2 separate regions of the Homo sapiens genome follow, and region 2 is linked to region 1. Evidence: fine-mapped expression QTL. A gene starts in region 1. The other region holds a variant in brackets. All regions are shown on one strand. Distances are from middle to middle.

The links. PIP is the estimated chance that this variant, and not a neighbour inherited with it, causes the effect.
Region 2: its variant is the best candidate, but not a certain one, in a credible set for the expression of PLEKHN1 in adrenal gland (GTEx, PIP 0.76).

The regions. Positions count from the first base shown.
Region 1 is chr1:962,570-978,588 of GRCh38, reverse strand. PLEKHN1 (pleckstrin homology domain containing N1) reads right to left here and starts at 12,107. Exons shown (of 16, transcript NM_032129.3): 1 at 11,975-12,107; 2 at 11,786-11,885; 3 at 8,166-8,312; 4 at 7,988-8,068; 5 at 7,831-7,903; 6 at 7,583-7,710; 7 at 7,381-7,476; 8 at 7,185-7,265; 9 at 6,439-6,514; 10 at 6,165-6,301; 11 at 5,579-5,728; 12 at 5,263-5,403; 13 at 4,949-5,089; 14 at 4,538-4,756; 2 more. The coding sequence starts at 12,057. The coding sequence ends at 4,014. KLHL17 (kelch like family member 17) reads right to left here. Exons shown (of 12, transcript NM_198317.3): 6 at 15,672-15,885; 7 at 15,336-15,480; 8 at 15,085-15,252; 9 at 14,581-14,669; 10 at 14,409-14,482; 11 at 14,059-14,240; 12 at 12,870-13,626. The coding sequence ends at 13,398. PERM1 (PPARGC1 and ESRR induced regulator, muscle 1) reads left to right here. Exons shown (of 4, transcript NM_001394713.1): 3 at 1,965-2,090; 4 at 2,320-3,391. The coding sequence ends at 2,417. RefSeq lists silencers at 11,466-11,625, 11,896-12,215.
Region 2 is chr1:935,585-943,584 of GRCh38, reverse strand. It overlaps SAMD11 (sterile alpha motif domain containing 11), which reads right to left. Exons shown (of 14, transcript NM_001385641.1): 5 at 7,689-7,813; 6 at 4,456-4,545; 7 at 4,173-4,310; 8 at 2,279-2,441; 9 at 1,334-1,449; 10 at 1,097-1,175; 11 at 527-1,026; 12 at 208-332. Among named protein-coding and RNA genes, the nearest start is that of SAMD11, 16 kb to the right of the region's middle. RefSeq lists enhancers at 230-369, 4,939-5,650 and silencers at 1,602-1,801, 1,872-1,941, 5,163-5,212. The variant AGGTCGGCGTCCACTGGCT/T (reference allele first, on the strand shown) is at 3,788.

The DNA of each region.
Region 1 (16,019 bases):
GGCTACCTTCAGGGTCAGGCACTCTACGAGGCCCATCTCACACTGATGTCCTCTGGGAGATGCTTTACAGACCAGAACACGGGGCCTCCACTGGCAGTTCCCCCAAACTGGCCCAACTCAACCAGGTCACCCAAATCTCAGGCAGAAGAAGCACGGGGGCGATGTGACTCCGACAGACGCGTCCAGGGCGGGCGGTTCCCGGGGCAGGCGGTTCCCGGGGCAACCAGTTCTCAGGAAGACGTGTCCATGACAGAGGGGTTTCGGGAAGACGTGTCCAGGGTAGACGTGTCCAGCACAAATGTATCTTAGGACAGACATGTCCCATGATGGATGTATCTGGGGCAGGCGGTTCCCGGGGCGGGCGTGTGCGGGGCAGGCAGTTCCCAGGCCAAGAGTGTGCAGGGTTAGGGTGGGGCAGGCGGTTCCTGGGGTTGGAGGGGGAGGCAGGCGGTTCCCGGGGCGGCCGTGTGCGGGGCAGGTGGTTCCCGGGGTTGCGGGGGAAGCGGCTCCCGGGGCAGGCAGTTCCTGGGGTTGGGGGGGGTTGGGAGGCGGTTCCTGGGGTTGGGGGGGGTTGGGAGGCGGTTCCTGGGGTTGGGGGGATTGGGAGGCGGTTCCCGGGGTTGGTCGGTGGGGGCAGGCGGTTCCCGGGGTTGCGGGGTGGTGGGAGGCGGTTCCCGGGGTTGCGGGGGGAGTGGGAGGCGGTTCCCGGGGTTGGGGGTGGTGGGAGGCAGTTCCCGGGGTTGGGGGGATTGGGAGGCGGTTCCCGGGGTTGGTGGGGGTGGGAGGCAGTTCCCGGGGTTGGGGGGATTGGGAGGCGGTTCCCGGGGTTGGTGGGGGTGGGAGGCGGTTCCCGGGGTTGGTCGGTGGGGGCAGGCGGTTCCCGGGGTTGCGGGGGGAGCGGGAGGCGGTTCCCGGGGTTGGTGGGGGGAGCGGGAGGCGGTTCCCGGGGTTGGTGGGGGGAGCGGGAGGCGGTTCCCGGGGTTGGTGGGGGGAGCGGGAGGCGGTTCCCGGGGTTGGTGGGGGGAGCGGGAGGCGGTTCCCGGGGTTGGTGGGGGGAGCGGGAGGCGGTTCCCGGGGTTGGTGGGGGGAGCGGGAGGCGGTTCCCGGGGTTGGTGGGGGGAGCGGGAGGCGGTTCCCGGGGTTGGTGGGGGGAGCGGGAGGCGGTTCCCGGGGTTGGTGGGGGGAGCGGGAGGCGGTTCCCGGGGTTGGTGGGGGGAGCGGGAGGCGGTTCCCGGGGTTGGTGGGGGGAGCGGGAGGCGGTTCCCGGGGTTGCGGGGGGAGTGGGAGGCGGTTCCCGGGGTTGGTCGGTGGGGGCAGGCGGTTCCCGGGGTTGGCGGGGTGGTGGGAGGCGGTTCCCGGGGTTGGTGGGGGGAGCGGGAGGCGGTTCCCGGGGTTGGTGGGGGGAGCGGGAGGCGGTTCCCGGGGTTGGTGGGGGGAGCGGGAGGCGGTTCCCGGGGTTGGTGGGGGGAGCGGGAGGCGGTTCCCGGGGTTGCGGGGGGAGCGGGAGGCGGTTCCCGGGGTTGGTGGGGGGAGCGGGAGGCGGTTCCCGGGGTTGGTGGGGGGAGCGGGAGGCGGTTCCCGGGGTTGCGGGGGGAGTGGGAGGCGGTTCCCGGGGTTGCGGGGGGAGTGGGAGGCGGTTCCCGGGGTTGGCGGGGGGAGTGGGAGGCGGTTCCCGGGGTTGGCGGGGGGAGTGGGAGGCGGTTCCCGGGGTTGGCGGGGGGAGTGGGAGGCGGTTCCCGGGGTTGGCGGGGGGAGTGGGAGGCGGTTCCCGGGGTTGGCGGGGGGAGTGGGAGGCGGTTCCCGGGGTTGGCGGGGGGAGTGGGAGGCGGTTCCCGGGGTTGGCGGGGGGAGTGGGAGGCGGTTCCCGGGGTTGGTGGGGGTGGGGGCAGGCGGTTCCCGGGGCGGGCGTGTGCGGGGCCATCTCTGAGTGCAGCCGTGGGGCTGAAGGTGAGCTTCTGTCCTAGGGGAGCTCCGGGGGCCTGTCCCATCATTTGCCTTCAGCCAGAATGACATGTGCCTGGTGTTTGTAGCTTTTGCCACCTGGGCTGTGAGGACGTCAGATCCGCATACCCCAGACGCCTGGAAAACAGGTTTGGGTGCCTGGGGGCAGAGGGAGCTGCGCCTAGAAGCCAGACCGAGGGGCGCTGGCAGGACGAGGGGTGCACGGGGGCCCCGGGGCTCACCCCTGACCTGCTCCCCCCAGGCTGAGCTGCGGCCCTGGCCGCACCGACCTTGCCCGCCCTTTGAGGGCTGGGTCTTGCGGGCAGACGGTGCCGACAGCCAGGCTGGCCCTCAGAAGAGCCTGTGCTTCTCTTGCAGCCTTGCTGGCCAACGTCGGCACCATCTCTGCCATCCGCTACTTCCGCCGGCAGGTGGGGCAAGGGCGCCGCAGCCACAGCCCCAGCCCCAGCTCCTAGGAGCCAGGCCCGGGCCAGGGAGATGCAGGATGAGGAGACGACCACAGGCGCCCAGGGCAGGACGAGGTGCCGCCCTCGCCCGGGCCCTCTGACCCCTCTCTTCTACCGCGTCCAGGAGGGGGGCGTGTCCTGGTGCTGCTCCCTCCGACTCACCTGAGGATCCAGCCAGTGACCACGGCCACTCCCCACGCCTGGGAGGGAGGTGCTAAAGTCTGGGTGGGTGGAGGGCAGGCAGGTGGCTGGGTAGGAGGGTGGCCAGATTCACAGATGAGAACACAGGGCATTCGGTTAATTTCAGACAGGCAATAGTGGGGAGGTCATTTTACTAAGAAGTTGTTGTTTATCTGAAATCAAATGCAACCGCACCCTGCGTTTCTTCTGGGGTGCAGGGGGAGCTGAGTGGCAGGACAGGACTTGGACCTCGGAGGGGTCTGAGCAGCAAGACACTCCGGCTGGAGCTCTGGGCAGAGGCAGGGGAGAGGACACAGGGTGGCCTCAAAGAGGGGATGGGCAGCCTCCTCACAGGTGGGCTGGGCTGGCAAGGGCTCCAAGGCCCATCACTCTTGATCCTCAAAGGACTGTGGCCAAGGCCTCTGCGGGCTCTGGCCTGAGACAGCGAAGGCTCTGCCTGCCCCTCCCCAGTGCAGCAGCCCCTGCAGGGTGGGGGTCTGTGGCAGAGCCGCGAGCCCCTCCCCGGGAGCCCTGGGTGCAGGTGCAGAGGGAGAATTCGGTGGCCTCAGATGGAGGGCTGGGCTCCTGGGGTTGTCCCGGGGGCTCCTGTGGGGCAGCTGGGGACCCACAGCCAAGAGGAGTCAGAGATGAGGTGGGAAGGTCGGTGAGGGGCCCGAGGTGGCAGAGGAAGGGGGCTGCCTGGCTGGGTGCTGGGTGGGGGTCCTCAAGACTGTGGGAGACCCTGGCTGCTGAGCAGAGAACACATGGATGCAGCACCAATAAAATTCTATCTTTTCTTTTTCTTTCTTCCTTTTCTTATTCTCTCTCTCTCTTTCCTTCTCTTCTCTTCTCTCTTCTCTTCTTTTCTCTCTTCTCCTCTCTCTCTTCTCTCTTTTTTCTTTCTCGTCCGGTGGTGTCAACGTCTCCCGTGCTGCCCTGTGGTGCGCGCCAGGCCACACAAGGACCCACCCACCCTCCTCCTCGGGGCACCCTGGCTTGTGCTCCTCACACCTTGCTGACCTGTGACCCTCATGCCCTCTGACCTCACATACTCTGACCCTGCTGACCTTTCTCTGTCCTCCGACCTTCACGCCCGTGCTGCCCTCCCACTCCCAGCGAGTCTCCTCCCTGACTCCTGGCGGGCTGAGCTGAGGGCCGACCCTGTGGACGGCCAGGACCTCCCTGACCTGTGACCCAGCCTCGCTGGCCAGGGCATCCTTTGGATGGGGCCCCTCCCACCCTTCCCTGCCCCAGCTGCTGGCACCAAGGAACAGGAGCTGAGGGACGGGCTCTGAACTCAGGGCCCCAGAGACTCCCCCCATCACACTGGGTTCAGACCCTGACTTGTAATTTGAAGTGGGTTAGAGGGGCAGGTACCCTGGAGCTTGGCGAGGGTGGTCCTGAGAACCCACCTCACCGCGGCCATCAGATCCACTGCACAAGCCCCCCACTGGCCTCAGGCCCTCCAAGCTGGGGGCACTTCTGGTGGGAGGAAGACAAAGTCTCGTCCCAGAGGTGGTCGTAGCCGGGGTCCCGGCTCCTCCTGGGGGACCGACCATCTGGTAGGGAAGGCAGAGATGTGTCAGCCTGTGGGAGGCAACAGGCACTCACCTCAGGAGGCAGGATCCTTACTCACCTGTCAGAGGCAGCCAGGGTTCGGGCGAACCTTCCCTGGCAGAGGAGACCTGGAACCCCAAACCGCAAGTCTGAGAGCCGGGCACAGCCCCAGGCAGGGAGCTTGGAGGCGGCCTGTCACTGTGCAGCCCCCCATGTCCCCCTGCTCTCCCTCCCCAGTCCCATCTCCCCAACTCCCTACTGGCCCCCCTGGCCTCCATCTGCCCCCGTCCTCCTGTTTCCCTCCCTGCTCCCTCAGAGTCCCAAGAGGCCCCACACCAGACCCCCGGCCAGCCCGGAGCCCGGGGCACACGGGCGTGGGGGCTGCTACTCACAAGCTGAGGGGCGTCTGGGGGCTGCGGCCCCCCATCCTTGGCTGAGCCCCGGTGTCTCTGAGCGGCTCTGGACTGCAGGGCTCCCTTCTTGGAGAGCAAGTAGGGGCCAGCGGGGCCGGAGGAGCAGGAGCGAGGGTCAGAGGCAGGCACAGACACAGGCACCGAGGGGAGTGGGCTCGAGGGCGTGGGTCCACGTGCACTCTGCATGGCACTGAGGAACTGCAGGGAGAGCCAGGGCTGGGGCCTGGGTGGCAGCCAGGGGCCCCCAGAACCTCAACCTCCCATCAGAGCCTGAACAGACCTCAGGCTTGGGGCAGCCCCAGACCCCAGGGTGAGACGCACGGTCTAGACCTCCCCAGCCTCAGGCTGCAGGCACCTCCCACCCTTTCTGTCACCCAGCAGGGGCCTGACCTCCTCCAGGCCCCGGACATCTGTGACCCTGCGGTGGGAGGTGGCGGGTGGTGTGTAGGGGTCGGCATAGAGGGGCGAGTGTGATGTTTCCGAAGTGTGGTCAGGGGCATCTGGGCTGCTCTCCAGGCTCAGCCTGTGCAGCTGCAGGGCAGAGGTGGGAGAAATGGGCTTCTCGGCTAGAAACAGCCTAGGCCACCCCTTCTCTGTGCAAGAGGCCTCTGGGTGGCTCCAGGACAACTGGGCCCAGAGACAGAGACCAGTGGTGCGGAACGGTGGGAACCAGGCCAGGGGCTGTGTGGGTGTGCTGGGCCCACCTGGGTCAGGTCCAGGTGCAGTGGGGTGACAGGGCCGCGGCCCTCTGCCCGGGCCTTGCTCCCGGGTGACCGGCTGCTGCCACTGCGTCTCAGCTCGGTCCTCCGTCGGCCAATGCTGGCACGGTCAGAGTTGGCCTGGTCCTGTGGGGACCACAAACCTTCCAGGAAGAGCCCTTTGGCCCCTCTCCCGTGCAACTCTCTGAGGCTGCAAGGGGCTCCCTCCAGTCTGAGTTCCCCTGAGGAACCAGGGTCCCCAACACACACCTACCCGACAGCCTTCTGCCCCACTTTCGTCTGCCACCCCGTAAGCGCTCACCGGTGTGTGCTGGGAGGAGCAGCCCACGGTGGATGGCACTGAGGACTCAGGCAGGGAGTGGCTGGTGCGGGTGGAGGGGGGCGCCAAGCACCCCGAGTCCCAGCTGGTCTGTCCGCCTGAGGAGAGTGAGCCTCGGCCACTGCCCATAACCTGGATGGGCAGTGAGTGGGGGTGAGTGAGGGCTGGACCCCCTCCCCACCCGCCCCTGCCTGGACCCACCGTGCTGTCCCCCCTTTTATCTTTTTGGGACGAAGTCTTATTCTGTCGCCCAGGCTGCAGTACAGTGGCACGATCTCGGCTCACTGCAACCTCCGCCTCCTGGTCAAGCGATTCTCCTGCCTCAGCCTCCTGAGTAGCTGGGGTTACAGGGATGTACCGCCATGCCCGGCTAATTTTTTTGTATTTTTAATAGAGACAGGGTTTCTCCACGTCGGTCAGGCTGATCTCGAACCCCTGACCTCAAATGATCCGCCCGCCTCAGCCTCCTAAAATGCTGGGATTACAGGCGTGCGCCACCACGCCCGGTCTGCTGCCCCCTTTTTACCACTGCCCAGGACCTGGGCTGTGGGGCCTATTGACCCCTCACCTGCGACCCTGGGAAGCTCTCGGCACCAGGCAGCGGCGGGGCCCCCTCCCTGTGGGTGACAGCGCGAAGGCACAGCAGCCAGTGACCGTAGTCCTCGTAGCTGGCGCACACCACGCGGATGGTGTTGATGAGGGGGCCTGGCATACAGATGCTGTGAGGGGCTGGCGGGGGGGTGCACCCCTCAGCGCCCCCACTAAAGAGTCGGGCGTCCCCCAGGCTCCCGCCCCACCATGGCCTGGCCAGGCGGGAGGCAGAACCAGGGTCAGGGCCCTACCTTCAATCAGGAAGGAGCGGATCTGCTTCTCCTTCTCCTCCAGGTTGATGTGGACGGCACGGAGTGGGAGCTCCCCCTGCGGAGCAGAGATTGAGGGCCAGGCCTTTGTAGGGGCAGCCCCGGGGCCCCGCCTGGCCTCATCCCACCCTCTTGCCCTCCAGAGCTTGGCTGGGTACTTGGAGAGCTGGGCACCGAGGCCACCACCCTGAGGGAGGCCAGTGGGTCCCATGTCTCCTGGGGCTACCACCAACCCTGGCGCGGGGGCCTTCGCCGGCTAGGGGCAGACACACAAAGCCACAGGACTGGCCTCTTGGGGTCCCCAGAGAAGAAGTTGGGCCGGGTGAACCATGGGGAGGGCCCTGTGTTTGTTCCTCAGTGACTGAAGGTTACCGTGAGTGCACACCCCCTTCCCGGAGCCCGCCCTGGAGGACACACGCACACGCACGTGTGCACACACACGCCTCACGGGCAGGCACACACAAGGGAGTCCCCGGGAGGGGCTCTCAGCCCCATGCTGCCCGCCCCAGGGTGACGGTCAAGAACCTCAGGGTGAGAACCTCAGGGCGGGCAGGGGCTCCTCCATGTCACAGCGGAGACCAGACTGACCAGGACCGCGGGCTGGGTGGGCAGGGCCCTGCGCTCTGTCTCAACAAGCCCCGAAATACAGGTTCCTCCTGCATGGCTGCCCCCTCCCACCCCCACACAGCTGCCTCCCTGGGGCGGGCCCACAGTGGGGAGGGGCCCACCTTGAAGCAAAGCCCGTCCAGCTCCTCGGAGAAAATGGCCAAGGACGTTGGGTACAGGACCAAGAGCCGGTCCCACTGCTCCTGGGTGGGTGGGGGTGGGGTCAGGCGATGAGGGAACTGAGCTGCTGTTGCACCGCCCTGCCCACCACCATGCACCCCTCCCATCCCCCTACAGCCCCACGCACCTCCCACCCACCTGTGCGGGCAGGTGCTGCAGCTTGACCCTCGAGGCACAGACAGCACTGCCGCCGGGTTCGTGCCCTGACGCCGTCCGCAGCCGGGTTAGACGGCGCTGCAAAGTCCAGGGGAGTTCGTCTCCGCAGGACCCCTGTGAGGAGGAGGTCAGAGCCGGCTGCGAGGATCAGGGTGGGGAGGGGGGTGGGGTCCCCGGCACTGACCTGTGGGGGTGCCGAGTGGCAGCGCCGCGGCCCCCCGAGGAGGGCCGTCTGCTTCTCCAGGTGGTAAAGCCAGCGGTCCAGCTCGGCCCGGCTGGGGCAGAGCACCAGGAGGGGTGCGGGCAGTGGGCCTGCGGGCAGGGCAGAGAGGGCACACACATACACACACGTGCTCCGCAGCCACAGGGCAGGCCCCTCTCCAAGTCCTGGGTCAGGAGTGCCTCTGGGGGCCCGGGAAGCATCCCAAACACCTGTGATCTGGAAGGCGTGCTCTCGGGACCCCTCGAGCGGGCAGACACTCAGCTCCGTCAGCGGTAACAGCCCCTGCCAGGCACAGGGTAGGAGGAGCTTCAGGGATCCATGGAGGGAAGGGCGGCCATGGCCCCACCCCATTGCCCACCGCCTCACCTGAAATGTGAGTCCTTCCGAGCCGTGGGCCTGGAAGTACAGGTGGGCGGGGAATAGCTCCAGGTAGCAGTCGCTGACATCCTGCGCGGGGAGCAGGGTCGTCAGTGCGGAGTCTGGGGAGCCCCAGGCTGATGGGGATGCTGCACCCTTAGCGTGCTCCACCCAGCCCGGCCCCCACCTGGCTGTGCTGGAACCGCAGCTGGACCTTGGCGTAATGCACAACTTTTCCCAGGTTCCTCACAGGCACCCTCCGCCGCCCCTTCTTGAACACACTCAGGAATGGCTGCTCCAGGTTTTCTCGCTGGTTCTCCAGGTCCAGGATGTCCTAGGAGGAGTAGAGCTCAGGGGAGGGGGCCTCCCCTGGGCCCCCCACCCCCTCCGCTCGCATCCACACAGCTACAGGACTATAGCATGGTCTGCCTGTGCATAGCCACACAACACATATGTGAAGAACAGCCCCCCACAGGCACAGAACCTGTGCACAGCCACACAACACATACGTGAAGAACAGCCCCCCACAGGCACAGAACCTGTGCACAGCCACACAACACATACGTGAAGAACAGCCCCCCACAGGCACAGAACCTGTGCACAGCCACACAACACATACGTGAAGAACAGCCCCCCACAGGCACAGAACCTGCACACTCAGCCTTTCCACAGGAAAACAGTCACGGCAGAATTTACACACACGTGCATACATATATGCATACATGCATATTCGTGTACACGTACACGCACACACACCCGATACGTGCACATGCAGGCAACATGCATGCATCCATATATGCGCACACATACACATGTATAAATGCATACACGCACACATGCATACACACACAATAGACACATACATGCCACACAATACAGACACAGATGCATACACACGGGAACACACATACGCACTTATACACACATGTACACACACGCACACATATGCATGGATACACACGTGCACACATACACAGTTGCACATACACAGATATGCACACACGTGCATACATGCATACATATCCACACGCAAATACACCCATACACATGTATACACATACACACGTGCACATACACACGTGCACACATACACATGCACACCTATACACACATGCACACACATGCATGCACACATGCACACTGCATACATGCATACATTTCCACACACACACAAATACACCAACACACACGTATACATACACCTGTGCATATACACACAGATGTGTGCACACATATACACGTGCAAACACATGCACACATACACACTTGTGCACACACACGCACACACAGACACACTTCCCCACACAGAGCTGCCTGGTCTAGTGGTAGAGATGGTGAGATCTGGACTCAGTGGATTAAACCCATCTTCATTCTTTCCTAAGCTGTGTAACATGGCTTGGGTTATTCAACCTCTGAAGACTTGTTAGAAGAATTTGGGGGTGTCTGGGTAACACTCAAAACCCTCCCACGTCTGCAGTATTGTATGGTAAATGCTTAACACCTGGTTCTACAAAAAACAGACACAGAAACACACCGATGCCCTGATTTGTAACGTTTGCCAATCTCCTCGGTGTCAGTGTCCTCACCGTTGCCCATTTCCAGCCCCCAGCCTGAAATATGTGAGGAGATTTCTGGGGTCGATCCTCTGTGTGTTGGCCGCTCCGTATGCCTCACTCAGGGGACAACGGGGTCCTGGCAGTGCCCCGAGGGGTCTCCCCCGAGGGGTCTCTGTGGCTGCCCCGGCCTCACTGTCTCCTCACATCAGACCCATGCTCTCTGGCTGCTGCATGTTCTGTTCCTGCTTTGGGGACCGCTCAGTCCTGACCCCCCTCCTTACCCGCTTTGCAGCTTTGCTCAGACATTACCTGCTCCAAGAATTCCTTTTCTGAAAGCCTTTCTAAAATTCCAGCCTTCCCTGATCCTCTGCACTCATCCCCTCTGTTTTTCTCCTTAGCACCGACCTGACCCCGCTCACTGGATCTATTGATTTGTCCCGTCGTGTGTCTCTGCCGTGGGAATGGGAGCACTAGCAGAACAGGGGTTGTCTATTCCGTTCACTGCTGTGTCCCCAGAGCCTAAGACAGGGCCTGGGATGTGCTGTGGGTATCACTGCATGTGCTGAGAGGGGAGGGGACTCCACATCCACGCCACATGTAGTCAATCCTGGCACACACAGTCCTCTACAAATGCAGGCTTTGATCACCAGGTTGGAAGTCAGAAAAGGGACGGGTGTGAACCTGGGGCTGGAGACCTCTGTGATCCACAGGCTCAGGGCCAAGTGGGAAGGTGTCCTCCTCCTTCTAGGAGCTGGCGAGAGCTACCTGCAGAGCTGCTGTGCCCTGGCCAAGCTTAGCTGCCCCTGAGCAGGCCCAGGAATGTGAACAGACAGACGCATGGCTTTCCCGGCCTTCTGCCTCTGGGTGGGGCCTCCTGTACCCACACCCAGCGTGGGAACTGATGCCGGGTTGGCACCCATGAAAAATAGGCCACAGACCAGGAAGGGCCACACAGCTGGCCCTGCAGCGCAGCTCAGCCTCGGGGCCCCGGGGAGGACTCAGCTTGGAGCCGTAGTAGAGCCAGCTCACAGCACTGGGTGCAGAGCCCAGGTACAGGGCCGCGGAGCACTGGCTCTAGGACTGGCCCAGAGCTCCTCCCCCAGCCCCATTTCCCGAGGTTCAGCAGGTTGTTGCCTCTGTGGCTACCATGTCCTGGCAAGGGAGGACCACTACGGCCACCCACCACACCTCATAGGACCCCCCAGGGTCACACTGCATGTCCTGGGCCTGGACAGAGGGAGTGGTGTCTGAGATGCAGCCACAGGGACCCCACCCCTAACCCAGCCCGGCTCCCTCTCCCTGCCCACTCCTCTGAGGCAGCGTGGTTTCCGAAACCAGTACTTGTCTGCAGGGAGCCCTGAAACTCTGGAGGTCAGGAGAGGGTATGGCACGAGCTTCCTGCCTGGCGGGGGCATGTTGGCAAAGGGGTCTGCACGGCCATGCCAGCTGCTGGACCCAGGAGTGCAGGGCAGGCGTCCTCTCCCGCAGATGCTCCTAGGGCCTGCACATAGCGGAGCCCACCCATCCAGGCTGCCTGACGGGGGTGCAGTGGGGGTTCCTGTCTGCCCTGAAGCCCAGGTTCCTGGTCCTGTTCCCTCATCCCAGCACCAGACACATCTGAAAGGGGCTGGGATCTACCCTGTGAAGACCCTTAGTCCCACAGGGGCTGGGGGGGGGGTGGGCATGGGGGTGGTCTTCTGCTCCTTTGACGGAGAGGTGGCCTAGTGTGTGCTTGGGAGACACCTCCTTGCTGCATGGCCTTGGCAAGCTGGGAGGAGGCCGGCGCGTGCACAGAGGGATTGCTGTGGACCAGGCGGCCATACCCAGCGGCAACTTCCTGCGGGACACCCAGGGAGAAAGGCCGGTGTAGGTGACCGGCTGGCTCGCTGCTCATCTGAGGCCCCTTACTCTCAAGTGACACTACCTGCCGGCACGACCCCAAGCCCCACTGCAGCGACAGAGACACGTGCGCTGGTCCCCTGCGGGAGGAGGTCCCGGGAGGCCCCGCCCGCGGCCCGCCCCGCCCAGCTCTCTCCCGACTGACTCAGTCCTGCGTCGCGGTTTCGCTCTCCGCTCAGACTTTCGGCCGGATGAGCTCCCCAGGGCGGGGCAGTCAGCGTCGGCTCCTCACCTACCGGGGTCTGAACGCCCCGGGGGCGAGGGGAAGACCCTGAGCTGCACGGACACACGGCACACACGCGCGGGCAGAGCCACGCTCCCAGACCACAGCCACCGTGCACGCCGCGCTCACCGTGCCCGGGATGTAGTGGAAGAGCTTGTTGGCGGCGGCGTCCCCGCTTCGAGCAGCCTCGGGGCCCGGCAGGCCGGCCGACATCCGCGCGCTGTCCTCTCTGGGGACAAGGCAAGGGGTCTCGTGGCTTGGCCCCGGAGCGGGTGGGGGAGCCCTGCGCCCAGGTGGCCGCACCCACGCCCCGCTCACCTGTTTCCCTTCAGCGAGGGCTTTCTGGAGAAGGAGGCCCGGAGCCTCCTGGGGGCCTGAGGGACACAGTGGCTGTTCCCCATGGCCAGAGTCGTACAGGTCGGCAAGTCTGGGTCCCTGTCCACAGCCTCCTGCCCCCGCCTCCCGCGGGCAGGCGGGGCTCCGGGACGTCCCGCCCGGCACCAGGGCCTGGGCGAGGGTGGAGCCTTTCTGGAAGAGGCCTGGCCCCTACCTGAGCCGTGCAGGTCTCTGCCCTGGGCCCTCCACTCGAGAGGCCAGCCTTGGGGCAAGCACCCCTCTGGCCCAGACGAGGCCTCCAGTGTGCAGAGGTACCCCACCTGCTTGTGCTCCGGCTTGGTGAACCCGGGGCGACCTTCCAGGCCCCCCGGGACAACGTGCCCACACATCCTGTTTCCATCTAAACTCTGGCCGGCCCGAGTCACCGGTGACTGCAGGGAGGGCTGAGGCAGGAGTTCCAGCACAGGAGACGGCGGCCAAAGCCACCGCAGCCTCCCCTCCTGCCTGGGCCCCCTCGCCACAGACCCGAGTCAGGGTCCCCAAGGCTTAAGGGGACTCAGGGAGGCCACATGCCCCCTAGACGGCCAAGACAGTCAGCGCACTCGGGGGCAAGGCTGTCCTCCCCAGCCCTAACCCCAGAGCCCACGATGTGGCGGGGACCTCGGCCTCAGTACCCAGCCCAGGCAAACGCCACCCACACTGGGACGCTGGTCCACAGGAACTGCACGGCCCCCACCCTCCCTGGACGCACAGCTCTGCCTTGCAGCTCCCAGATGCCTGCGCATCTCAGGGCACCCCCCCACACCCCTCACCCTGGACCCCAGACAGGACCCAAAGTTGCGCAGCTGCCCCACATGCCAGAGAGAGATGCTCAGCCTGAGGAACCCCAGAAATGTGTTTATTAAGTTGGACTCGTATTGCTGTGTGGGGTCCCAGTGCACGCGTGTGCACCCACTACAAGATCCAGGAAAGATGGCACACGGCAGACGACGACAGGAAGGACAACTGCTCCCCACCCTTCCCGGGACCCCGCCATGTGCAAAATTCGAGCTGGGGTCTGCAGCTGCTTGGAGAGACCCAGGGCCTCTTGCTCCACAGCCTGCAAGGTCTGAGCAGGCAACGGCCCTGGGGCGGTGAGGCCCCCGCCTGGTCACTCCCCGCGCCCCCCATGCAGGCAGTGGAGGGGAGGACACGCAGGAGGACCAGACGCTAAAGGTGTAAACGGGCAGCCGTGGCACTCCTCACCCCTCAATAAATAAGATAAATAACTAAATAAATAAACAACTAAATAAAGACATGAAGGAATGGATGCAGAGACGTGAACGGATGGCGCAGGACGTCCCTGGTGGGGGCCACGGTCCCCTTAAGGCATGTGGGAGGCTGCAGGCCTCTGGTGGTAGGTGGGTCAGAGGCTGGTGGAGGACACGGACAGCGTCGGGGAGGATGGCGGCGGGAAATTGAGCAGCTCCAGCACCGCCACACCCACACTGCTGCGCCGGGTGAACATGCAGGATGCGGCCACCCACTTGTTGGTCCTCGGGTTGTACTTCTCGATGGAGTTGAGGCTGGAGCTACCGTCGTTACCCCCCACGGCGTACAACCATCCGTCCATGGCCACCAGGTCATGCGTGCTCCTGGGGGGAAGGCGGGGTGAGCCCCTGGCTGCAGGAAGGGATGCGGGGGGAGGGGCTGCACCACAAAAAGGGGTGGTGGCGGGACATGCTCGCTGAGGTTGGGAGAACTCCCTTCTCACAGCACATCCCCACTGCGGACCCGCGCCCCCCTCCCGGCAGCACATCCCCACTGCGGACCCGCGCCCCCCTCCCGGCAGCACATCCCCACTGCGGACCCGCGCCCCCCTCCCGGCAGCACATCCCCACTGCGGACCCGCGCCCCCCTCCCGGCAGCACATCCCCACTGCGGACCCGCGCCCCCCTCCCGGCAGCACATCCCCACTGCGGACCCGCGCCCCCCTCCCCGCAGCACATCCCCACTGCGGACGCGCGGACCCCTCCCACAGCCCCACTGCGGACCCGCGCCCCCCTCCCCGCAGCCCCACTGCGGACCTGCGGATATTCATGGGCGCCACGCTTTCCCAGGCTCCAGCCTTTGGACTGTATCTCTCTACCGAGTTGAGGCAGCTGGTGCCGTCGTTGCCCCCTGCCACGTACAGGGCACCCTCCAGCACGGCCACGCCCGCTGAGCTGCGTCGGCTCAGCATGGACGCCACGGGCGACCACACGTTCACCTGGGGGCGAGGGCGTGGGCTGGACGCAGACCCGCCACTGGCATCCCTCCTCTGCCGCAGCCCCGACTCCAGGGTGGGGTGTCAGGAATGGGGGGGATGTGGGTAAACAGAGGGAGGAGGGCCCCGCGGCGCACGGGAGGGGGTGGCCAGGAGGGGTGCACTATGCACCTGGGGCTCATACTTCTCCACAGTGGCCAGGTGTGAGGAGCTGTCGTAGCCGCCCACAGCATACAGGTTCCCATCTGCCGGAAGTCAACACACCCGTGGCACTCCTGCTGGGAGTGGGGTCTCCACGGTGGGGGAAGGTGGGGATGCCCCCCAGGCAGGCCCCATCACCCACCAAGCGTGGCCACTCGCACATAGCGCCTCCGGGTGCTCATGGCAGCGACGGACGTCCACGTTCCGGTCAGGGGGTCGTAGCGTTCAGCACTGTGGGCACCAGGACCGCAGCCACAGCTCAGCAGAGACAGAAAGGCGTCCCGGCCCCAGGACCTGCCCTCCCCAGCGGAATGGCTGAAATCTTACCCTAGGAGTCAAACTCAGACCGCAAAGTCCTACCAGGCAGGGCCCGCTGGTGGGCACAGGACCCTGGCTGCCTGAACAACCCTGGGTGCACACCCACCTGGGCCCAGCCTCTGGACTGGGGGTAAGGACCCGAGAGAGGAAAGGGCACTGGGGCAGCAAAGCCAAGAGTTCAGGCCCAGTGTGGCAGTGGCCTGGGGTGAAACGGCCTCGCGGATCACCTCCTTTAACACCCCATCAGATACGACCCCTGTGATGGTGACACAAACTTGCCTCTTGCAGATGGACTGTACAAAGCCACTGGGGCCCCAACCCCAACTACCTGTTCAGGCAGGAGGCCCCGTCATAGCCGCCGGCCGAGTACAGGAGTCCATGCAAGGCGGCCACACCCAGGCAGCTTCGCCTTGTGCCCATGGACACCTCCGGCTGCCACGTGTTAGTCACGGGGTCGTAGGACTCCACGGTAGCCAGGTCTGAGGTCCCATCATAGCTAGCGGAATTAAGCCACTGCAGGTCAAGACTGGCCTGGCGGGCACGTGCCAGACCCGACCCAAGTCCAGCCTCCAGGCTTACCCGCCCACAGCATAGAGCCGGTTCCCCACCGCAGCCACTCCCACCCGGGCCCGGCGCGTGGACATGGAGGCCACCACGTGCCAGCGGTCGGTGCGCGTGTCGTAGGCCTCACAGTCTCCGTGGATGGCAAACAGGCTCCCGCCGCCTGGGGAGGGCAGGTGGAGACGGGACTCGTGAGTGGATCCCACTGCTGGGCCACACCCCAGGCTCCTGGAGAGGCCCCTGAATGGAGGGGCGGAGGGGCAGGTCAGGACCTGACCGGCACAGGTGGGGTGGGCTTGTGCTGGTGGGGAGTAGAAGGCACAGGGCAAGAGGGAAACGGGCGGGGGGCCATACCCACAGCAAAAAGCACAGGCCCGGCCCCCTCGCAGCGCCGGGGACGTGTGCGGCTGGTGCCTAGGACGCCCCTCTGCTCAGGCAGCAGGTGGAACTTCAGGGCCTCGATGAGGAGGTCCTTGCAGTCAGGGTGGTGCCTCACCAGGCTCTCGGCATCCACGTGGCCCAGCAGGAAGTCGCGGCTCAGCAAGGGCAGCCGCACACACTTCATGAGCTGGGGTGCAGGGAACGCCAAGGTCAGGCGGGACCCTCGGGCACACTGGGCGTCAGGGCTGAGACAACCCCCCAGATGCCCGTACCACCTGTGTGATGGATTCTTCTTCAGACAGGTGGGGGCACCACCCCCAC
Region 2 (8,000 bases), 31 kb after region 1:
CTGTTGGGTTTGAGTGTCAGGCAGAAAACACCTGGCAAAAAAAAAAAAAAAAAAAAAAGGTGGGGTGCACAGTCCAGTCCCTGCTGCGCACTGCTTTTGGGGAGGGAGAGGGCGTTGGGGAATGGCCCTACCCCACCATCCTTTCCAGGGAGGTAGTGACTGCCAGCCAGCTCCAGCCCCGCCCCAGGAACTGGGGCCCCCCCTTACCCGAGTGTACTCTCCACAGCCAGACAGGCCCCCCACGAAGCTGCAGACGTCATCCACGGTCCACTTGGTGACGTCCTCAGGGGCTGGGGCCTCCTCCCCATCCATGGAGAGTCCCCCTACCGCGCCTGAGTTGTGGGGCGTGTTACTAGGGCTCTGGCTGGCTTTCCCATACCCGCCCGTCTCCTGACCGTCGTGTGCCCCAATTGCTGAGGTGGGGGATGGGTGCCTAAGGGGAATTTTTCCTCCCCCCAAGACCCTTCCACAGGCGGCCTGCCAGTCCTGTGCCCTCTGGAAGGATCTAGAGTGTGGGGGTGCCCACCTGTGTGGAAGTAGGGGCTGACGGCATAAGGGAAGCCCAGGGGCAGTGTGGACCCTGGGAAAAGCCCCTTCCCCTCGGCGCCGGCCCCTCCAGCTGGAGCTTGGCCCGGAGTGGGCCCCCTGCACCCAACAGCTGCCGTCTCGGGGTCCTCTCCGTCCGAGTCTTTGGGGGGCTCGTCTTCCGAGCCATCTTGTGCCCAGAGCCTAGCCCCCGTCATCTCCTTGGACTCGCTGGGCCGCGCTGAGGCAGGGCCGGGACCCCCCTTCCGGGGGGCTCGCCGGGCAGAGTCCCGGGACGGGGTGGGGGGTCCGGAGCCCGGGGGCCCCTGGGGGGGCAGGGCCAGCAGTGGCGCCGCGCCGTGGTTCAGCACCAGCAGGGCCCCGCGCCGCTGCAGCTCCTCGGCGCCGTCGTTGGGGCGCAGGGCGGTCTCGGGCGCCAGCAGCTGTGGGCGCGCGCTCTCCAGCTCCTTCTGCCGCAGGAGGTCGGCGGGCAGCTCCAGCCTGGGCCGGGGGCAGACGCGGGTCAGCCGCCTCCCGGGCCGCGCGGCCCCGCCCGCCTCCCCGCACCTACCGGGCCAGGTTCTGCTTCCGCAGGAGCTCCTGCTGCCAGGCGAACATCTCCGCCTGCGCGGGGGGCAGGAAGCCGTAGCCTGGTGGGGAGGGGGACAACGCGGGGTCGGGGGGTCCGAGGCGGTCCGAGCCGGCCCTTTGCAATCCCCTACCCGGTCCGTCTCGGCTCCGACAGGGGCAGGGCCGGGTCCGCGAGCCTCCACGCGGGCTCCCAGGGGATGCGCACCCGCCTCCTCACCTGGGGTCTGGCACAGAGCCGAGGGCACCCCCAGGAAGGGGGGCCTGAGATGGGGGCCCAGGGCGACGTGAGGGGCATTCTGCGGCGACAGCAAGGGGGGCGGCTGAGGCAGCTCCCTGTGGACGGCAGCGCAATGAGCGGCGTCCCCCCCGCCCCCGTTCCCGTAAAGGCCCCGGCGCCCCTCCCCCGCCGCCTCCGCTAATTGCCGGCCCCGCGGGCGGTCGATGCGCAGCTCGTTACGGCCCCAGGTCGCGCGCCATCCCCGCCCCCGCCGGCGGCGCCAATTAATCTCGGCGGCGGCGCGGAGGCGCTGACCCGGCGGGCGGCGACGGCTGCAGCGGTAATTACTGCGCGGGGCGCCGGCCCCGCCTGCTCCCCTCCCCTGCGGACCCGAGCGGCGGGGGAAGCGGGGGCGTCATTAGCCGCAATCCGGGCGGCGGTGGAGGCAGCTGCAGACGCCGGGCTCAGCGGCCGGGCAGGGACTCGGGCCTCAGGCGGCCCCTCCCTTCTCCAGGCGCCCCGCCCCGCCTCGTGTCCTGGACCCGAGAAACCCGGGTCTGTGCCGGAGGCCTTGTCTGTGCCGGGAACAGATCCGGCGCCGGCGTCTACATTTGAGCGCCAGCCAGGACCCCCCCTCCGCCTCCAGCTCTGAGTCCTCTGGCCGACCCCTCCCGACTGACCCCGGGGTTCCAGACTTGGAGCTCTCCCCTTCTCTGGCTTCTCCTCCAGGGAACCCCCTGATGGGCCTCAGCCTCCCTCACGCACCCCAGTGGCGCCCTCAACACTGCAGCCCAGATCGGTGTCACCCCCGAAACGCTCTGCCCGGACCCGAACCTAGAGCTGAACACAGTGCTTGGCACTCTCGGGGCGCGTGCTGGTGGCTGAGAGCGCGGGGGTGCGGGCGGCACCCCAGAAACAAGCAGAGAACGGCAGCCACCCCAGTACCTCTCCGAGAAGGACGGGGCGGCAGCTGGGGCGGCGCCCTCCCGGTGCTGAGCCAGGCCCTGCTTCCGACGCTGACCTGCCGTGGAGGAGGGCAGGTGGGCTTCCAGGCCACTGGGGCCCCTCAGAGCTGCAGCCGCCACCTCCTGCCGGACCCTCAGGAGATCTGGGTGGGGGACAACAGCAGTGATCCCCCCGGCTATGCGCCCTCATCCTCCCCAGCCCGCGTCCTGGCGTAGAACACTGAGGTGGGGAACTGACCACACCACTCGGCCGTGCTCGGCCCCTGGGCTGGTCTCGGGCACGGGGCAGGAGGATGGGCGGCCACAGGGCCGAGACGGCAGACAAGATGCTGGGCGAGGAAGTGTCGGGAAAAGCTCTTCCCCGAAGGGGAGCCGGGTGCCTGGAGGCTTCCGGCCTGAGAGGCGGCTGAGCCTTGCGGGGAGGGGGCTGTGCAGACGTCCCGAGGCCACAGAGCCTGCGGGGCAGCGAGAGAGTCCAGAAGTGCCAGCCAGGGGCTGACCGCCCAGGGGACCCCCTCTTCGGTGGGAGGCAAGAAAATCTGAGGTCCCCATAGTAGACGCGGCTGGCCAAAGCTTGTCACAAAGGCAAGGCAGCGCCCGCGCACGCACGCCACACTAGCACAGGGGTCGCCCAGTCCCGGCTGCGCAGGGTCACTGTCCCGCGTGGCCACACTCGCCCCAATGCGCACGCAGCGCCCGCGTCTAAGGCGCCGCGTCCCAGGTCTCTCGGCCTCTCCCTCCCGCCCGGGCCTCCCGAGTCCCCGCAGCCCCCACTATGCAGGCTCCGCCAGCTCCACCGCCGCCTCTGTTTATAAATTAATTACCCGAAAGCGGAGGTGGGTCCCGCCCCGGGCCGGGTGCCAGCCCGCAGAGCCCAGCCGGCGCGGCCGCCCGCATCGATCCCAGCGGGGCCCAGCGCCCCCGCGCTAGCGGCCGGGTTAGTTACAGGGTTATTTACGGCCGGCTCCGCGGCGGGGCGGGGGGGGGGGGCGGCGGCGCGGCCTGATTGACAGCGCGCTCCCCGGCGGCCGGCGCCCCTCCCCCGCGCGGCCAGCAGAGCGGCCCCAGGCAGAGCAGGGAAAGCAATTAAAAAGGAGGATTTTTACATTATTAACATTTGGTGAATTATTCAGGCTCTTGGTGCCTGAGCTGCCCTGGGGGACGGTGCCTGGTGTGAGGAATCCTGCCTCCTTTCCCGGCGCCCCCACCCACCTCTAGCCCGAAAAGCCAAGCTCCCCTGCCAGGCGGGCGGCTGGGGCCTGGGAGGCTGAGTGCAGCGGGCAGGGGGTCCGAGTGCATCCCGGAGGGACCCCTGGAGAACGTCCTGAGGTGGGGTGGACAGGGTCAGGGCCGACCCGGGGGAAGGGGCAGCCCCTCCAGCTGGCGTCTCTTCAGCACCTGGGGAGTCCTGGTGGCCAAGTGCCCACTGCACCCAGCCCGGCCTTTCTGCTCACTGCCCCTCCCCAGGCTCCTGGGGCAGGCGTCTGGC[AGGTCGGCGTCCACTGGCT/T]GCATAGACGACTCACAGACCACAGGGTCCAGGAGCTTGCTCTCCTCGGGGGGTGCTGCTGACATGCCCACTGCCCACCCTCACCTGGGTCCACCCCAGACTCCATTTCTCTCTATATAAAATGTGAGCTAGTCATGACCCTGGGGACCTAGGGGACATGGAGGTGTGGCCCGCCCCAGGGGGCATGGGGCAGGACGTGTGGCAGAGGGACCTGCATCCAGCCTGGCCTTGGTGTCAGCAGGGCCTCAGCAACAGGAATGGCCGAGTACATGTGGCTGGGGAGGTGATGAGGGGAGATCATGCCAGGGTGGGTCCTCACCGTGGCTGGGGAGGTGATGAGGGGGATCATGCCAGGGTGGGTCCTCACCGTGGCTGGGGAGGCCCAGGTGGTAGAGGCGCTGAGGGTCCTCAAAGGTGCTGGCCTCGCTCAGTGCTGACACAAGCCGGCGGTAATGGTCCTCCGGGGCCATGCTGGGCCCCAGCTCCCGCGGCAGCAGCAGCGCCTCTGCTGGGGAGGACCCGGGGTGAGAGGTTTCTCCAGGCACTGCCGAGGACCACGCCCCTCTAGAGTGCCTGCTCGAGGTCCAGGGGACCCTCAGGGACTGCCCCCTCCCCTGGTGACCTGTCTCTCGTCCCAGCCACGCTCTTACCTTGAGGCGATTCGCTTCGTGCCCTCTTCTCTGAAAAGCAGTCGCTGCTGATACGGGGGGAGCGGCCCAGCCTCTTGCCCAACAGGTCACCTGCGGGAGGGTAGTGAGTGCCCACCTGCATCTCAAGGAATGGAAGGGGAACCCAGCCCCTGCTCCAGCTCAGCCTGGACCGCACCCACCATCTCTCAGGGGGCCCTTGGTCCTGGTGAGTACAGGCCTTGCCCAGCCCTGGCAGCCCCAGCCTTCAGCGCAGAGGACATCACGCCTGGCTGTGGCGGGACAGGGGCACAGGGGAGCTCTGACACTGGCCCTGGTGCGTGTGTGCAGAAGAGATCCACAGCAGGCACCCAGCTGCCCCACCCGCCATCTAGCCTCTTGTGCAAGTTAACGAGCCCCCCTCTCATCCCCCTAGAGGAGAATAAAAAGCTTTTGGTTTGACCAGGCACCACCTTCCCCTCCTGGACAGGAGTGAGGGCGGGCTGTGCAGGGTCACATGCCAGCGTGGGGTGAGACAAGCCGGGAAGGACCTCACACCTGACCTCTTGCTGCTCTGTGAGTCACTGGGCTGTGGGCCCCCCAGGCCGCCTCGAGGCGCCTCCACTCCCAGGCCTCCTACTTGGTCATACCCATCCCTGCCCCCAGAAGGCCCACGTCCTCCTCTCTGGCCCAGTCCTGCCTGAGCTAGCACCCTGGCGTGGCTGTCATGCCCTTGTCCACCAGCCCAGCCAGGCTCTGGGCTTCTGGGGTGCACCTCCCAGTAGCTTCACCCACCTCCTCAGCCACGAGGCCAGCCCAGCCCTAGCCCCAAACACAGCCCAGCAGGTGGCAGAGGGGAGGCCCAGGCCAGGTCCAGCTTCAGCCCCAAACACAGCCCAGCAGGTGGCAGAGGGGAGGCCCAGGCCAGGCCCAGCTCACTCTCCTGAGGTCCTCCCTTGGGTCCTGCCGACCGCACCCATTCCAGACCACACCATCCATGTACCCATCTCCGACCCACCCCGAGCTCCTCCGAAGCCCCTGACTCCACGCCCTGGGGGTCTCCCAGGCCAGCCAGTGCCTCCGACTCTGGCCCTTCCTCATCCTCATGAGGGCTCTAGCTGGGTGGAGTGAGGGGCCACTCCCCTGTGACCCAAGACCTCCATGAGGCCTAGGCAGTGGGGCTCCCAAGCCCGTCCCCCCACAAGCCCTGCCGTCAGCTCCAGGCCTAATTCCTTTTTCTTATTCCCTTAATCTGTCATTTTTATCAGGCTGGGGAAGTGCGGCGGCCACACCGATCAATCCCACATTACAGCTGACAGAGTGGTGCTAATAACTTATTGATCCTGGCCCGGCTGCTGTCAGGCCCGGCCCCAGAGAGAGGGTCAGTCCCACGGTCTGGTCCAGGGTCCCCACCTCGGTGACAGATCGGGTGGCTGGGCCCGGCGGGCGGCGGGGGGCACCTGGCCACACACGGATCCAGGCACCACTGCTCAGGCCCCTGAGAAGCCATCGTCTCCCCCACAGCCTCCCGTGCCAGAGCTCGGTGGGCTGGGAGGGGGTGGGCCAAGGCTGGGGGAACCTGGCTCTTTTCCACACCTGCCACCTGGCCCACCATGCACATGCCCTCAGGGTTAGCAAGGCCTCTCACCTCCTGGCAATCACTTTTCCATTGTACACAGTGGAAACTACCCTCTCCGTTCTGTGGGGGGCTAAGGCCTCCTCCTAGCCTGGGGGAGGTGACTGGGTGGGGGGGGGGGCAGGTGGAAGGGGGCCTGCAATGAGACCGCAGGAAGGCCGATGAGGCCATGCTCACTCCTCACTCATGGACCCCAGCGGGTCTCACAGAGGCAGATGCAGGACCTGCTCTGAGTCCCTCACAGCCCAGGGCCCAGGGAGGTGCGGCTTAGCGGGAGGGCCCGGGCTGGGAACAGGATGGATGTGTGGTTCCTGGGGTCACAGGAAGGGAGAAGAGGTGAACGCCCCCCAGGGTGAATGCCCCTCCAAGAGGAGGCTCCGGGGAGCGGGCCAGACCCTGACACGGAGTGCGTATGGGAGACCTGGACACGGGTCCAGGACACGTGAGGCCCCGTAGAGCCTGTGAGCCCGGAAGTGCACGAACACGTCCTGACTCCATGGGTGAGAGCTGCCGGGCAACCCCCATCACGTGCACCCCACAGGACCCCAGACACAGACATGCCGGCACACGCACACGCGTGTACCTGAGGAGGTCTCCCTGTGTGAAGGCACAGGGGAGGGCCTGCTGGCTCAGAATATCTCAATCATTGTGGGGCTCCCTCCGCTCTGCTGGATCGATGGGGCAATTAGATTTTATCAACCGCCTCTCAGCTGTCTCCAACGCGGCATCAGAAGCTGCCCCCACCCAGCCCCACAAGGGCCTTCCTAGGTGCACGAGGACGCGGATGGGGGCCATGGATGGGGGACACAGATGGGGGTGGGCCTCCCCCACCCCTCCTTCCCAAGAGATGCAGGCCCTGCTGGGAACACCCCTGCCTGGGGTCCACAGGGCCTCGGGGCGCCCCCGCCTCCTTTCACGGCCTGCCCTGGGGCTGAGGCTCTGCTGTGCCCCTCTCTACAGCAGTGCCCTCTGAGGGGGGCCTGGTCCCCCCACAACTGTGACCAGGCAGCAGCACCTCCCTCAGGCGCCGGATCCCTTCCCTCCCGAGAACCCCATCCTTCCCGGAGCCCTAGAAGGCGGGACCGACCGGGGACCCCCTCCGTCCAGGAGCCCTAGGAGGCGGGACCGGGGACCCCTTCCGTCCAGGAGCCCTAGGAGGCGGGACCGGGGACCCCTTCCGTCCAGGAGCCCTAGGAGGCGGGACCGGGGACCCCCTCCGTCCAGGAGCCCTAGGAGGCGGGACCGGGGACCCCTTCCGTCCAGGAGCCCTAGGAGGCGGGACCAGTCATGCGTGCGCTGCGGGAGTGCGTGCGTTCCTCCAGGGTGTGCGTTTCTGAACCTCTGAGGCCACGCCTACGTCTGCCCTGTGGAAAGGGGGTGGCAGGGCCCCGGCTACTCCAAGCCCACCCCAGCGGCAGCCACAGCGGAGCCACCGCCTCTGCCTCCTGTCTGCCCCGCTGGCTGGGATTAACACAATTACCATCCCATGCAGCCCCTGGGGGACAGGCCGCTCCTCCTGCCTCTCTGGCTGCCTGCCAAGGCTGCTGGTGCTGAGTGGAGACGCCACCGTCCTCTGGCCCCACAGCCCCGACCCCGCCCTCAGGCCCCCTGTGCTCCTCACCGGCGGGTCGCAGGCCAATCTCCAGGCTGCCTCTCTGGAATTCACAGCGGCTCTGATGCTCGGGCATAACGAGGTGGCGGCTGCGGTGGACGCTGGATATGAGGGTGGGAAGGTTGCCGTCCTGGCTGCAGAACGAGACCGGGAAAAGCTGACCCCGTGGGCAGCTGCGAGGCTGGAGCCCAGCCTGGGCACAGGGAGTGCCTAGCTCTGTGTGTGAGCGTGGGGATGACCTCTGAGTGCCACGTTGCTGTGCCCACGCCTCGGCATGTGGCCCGTGACGCCACTGTGTGCACACCCACGCAGCACCCGAGT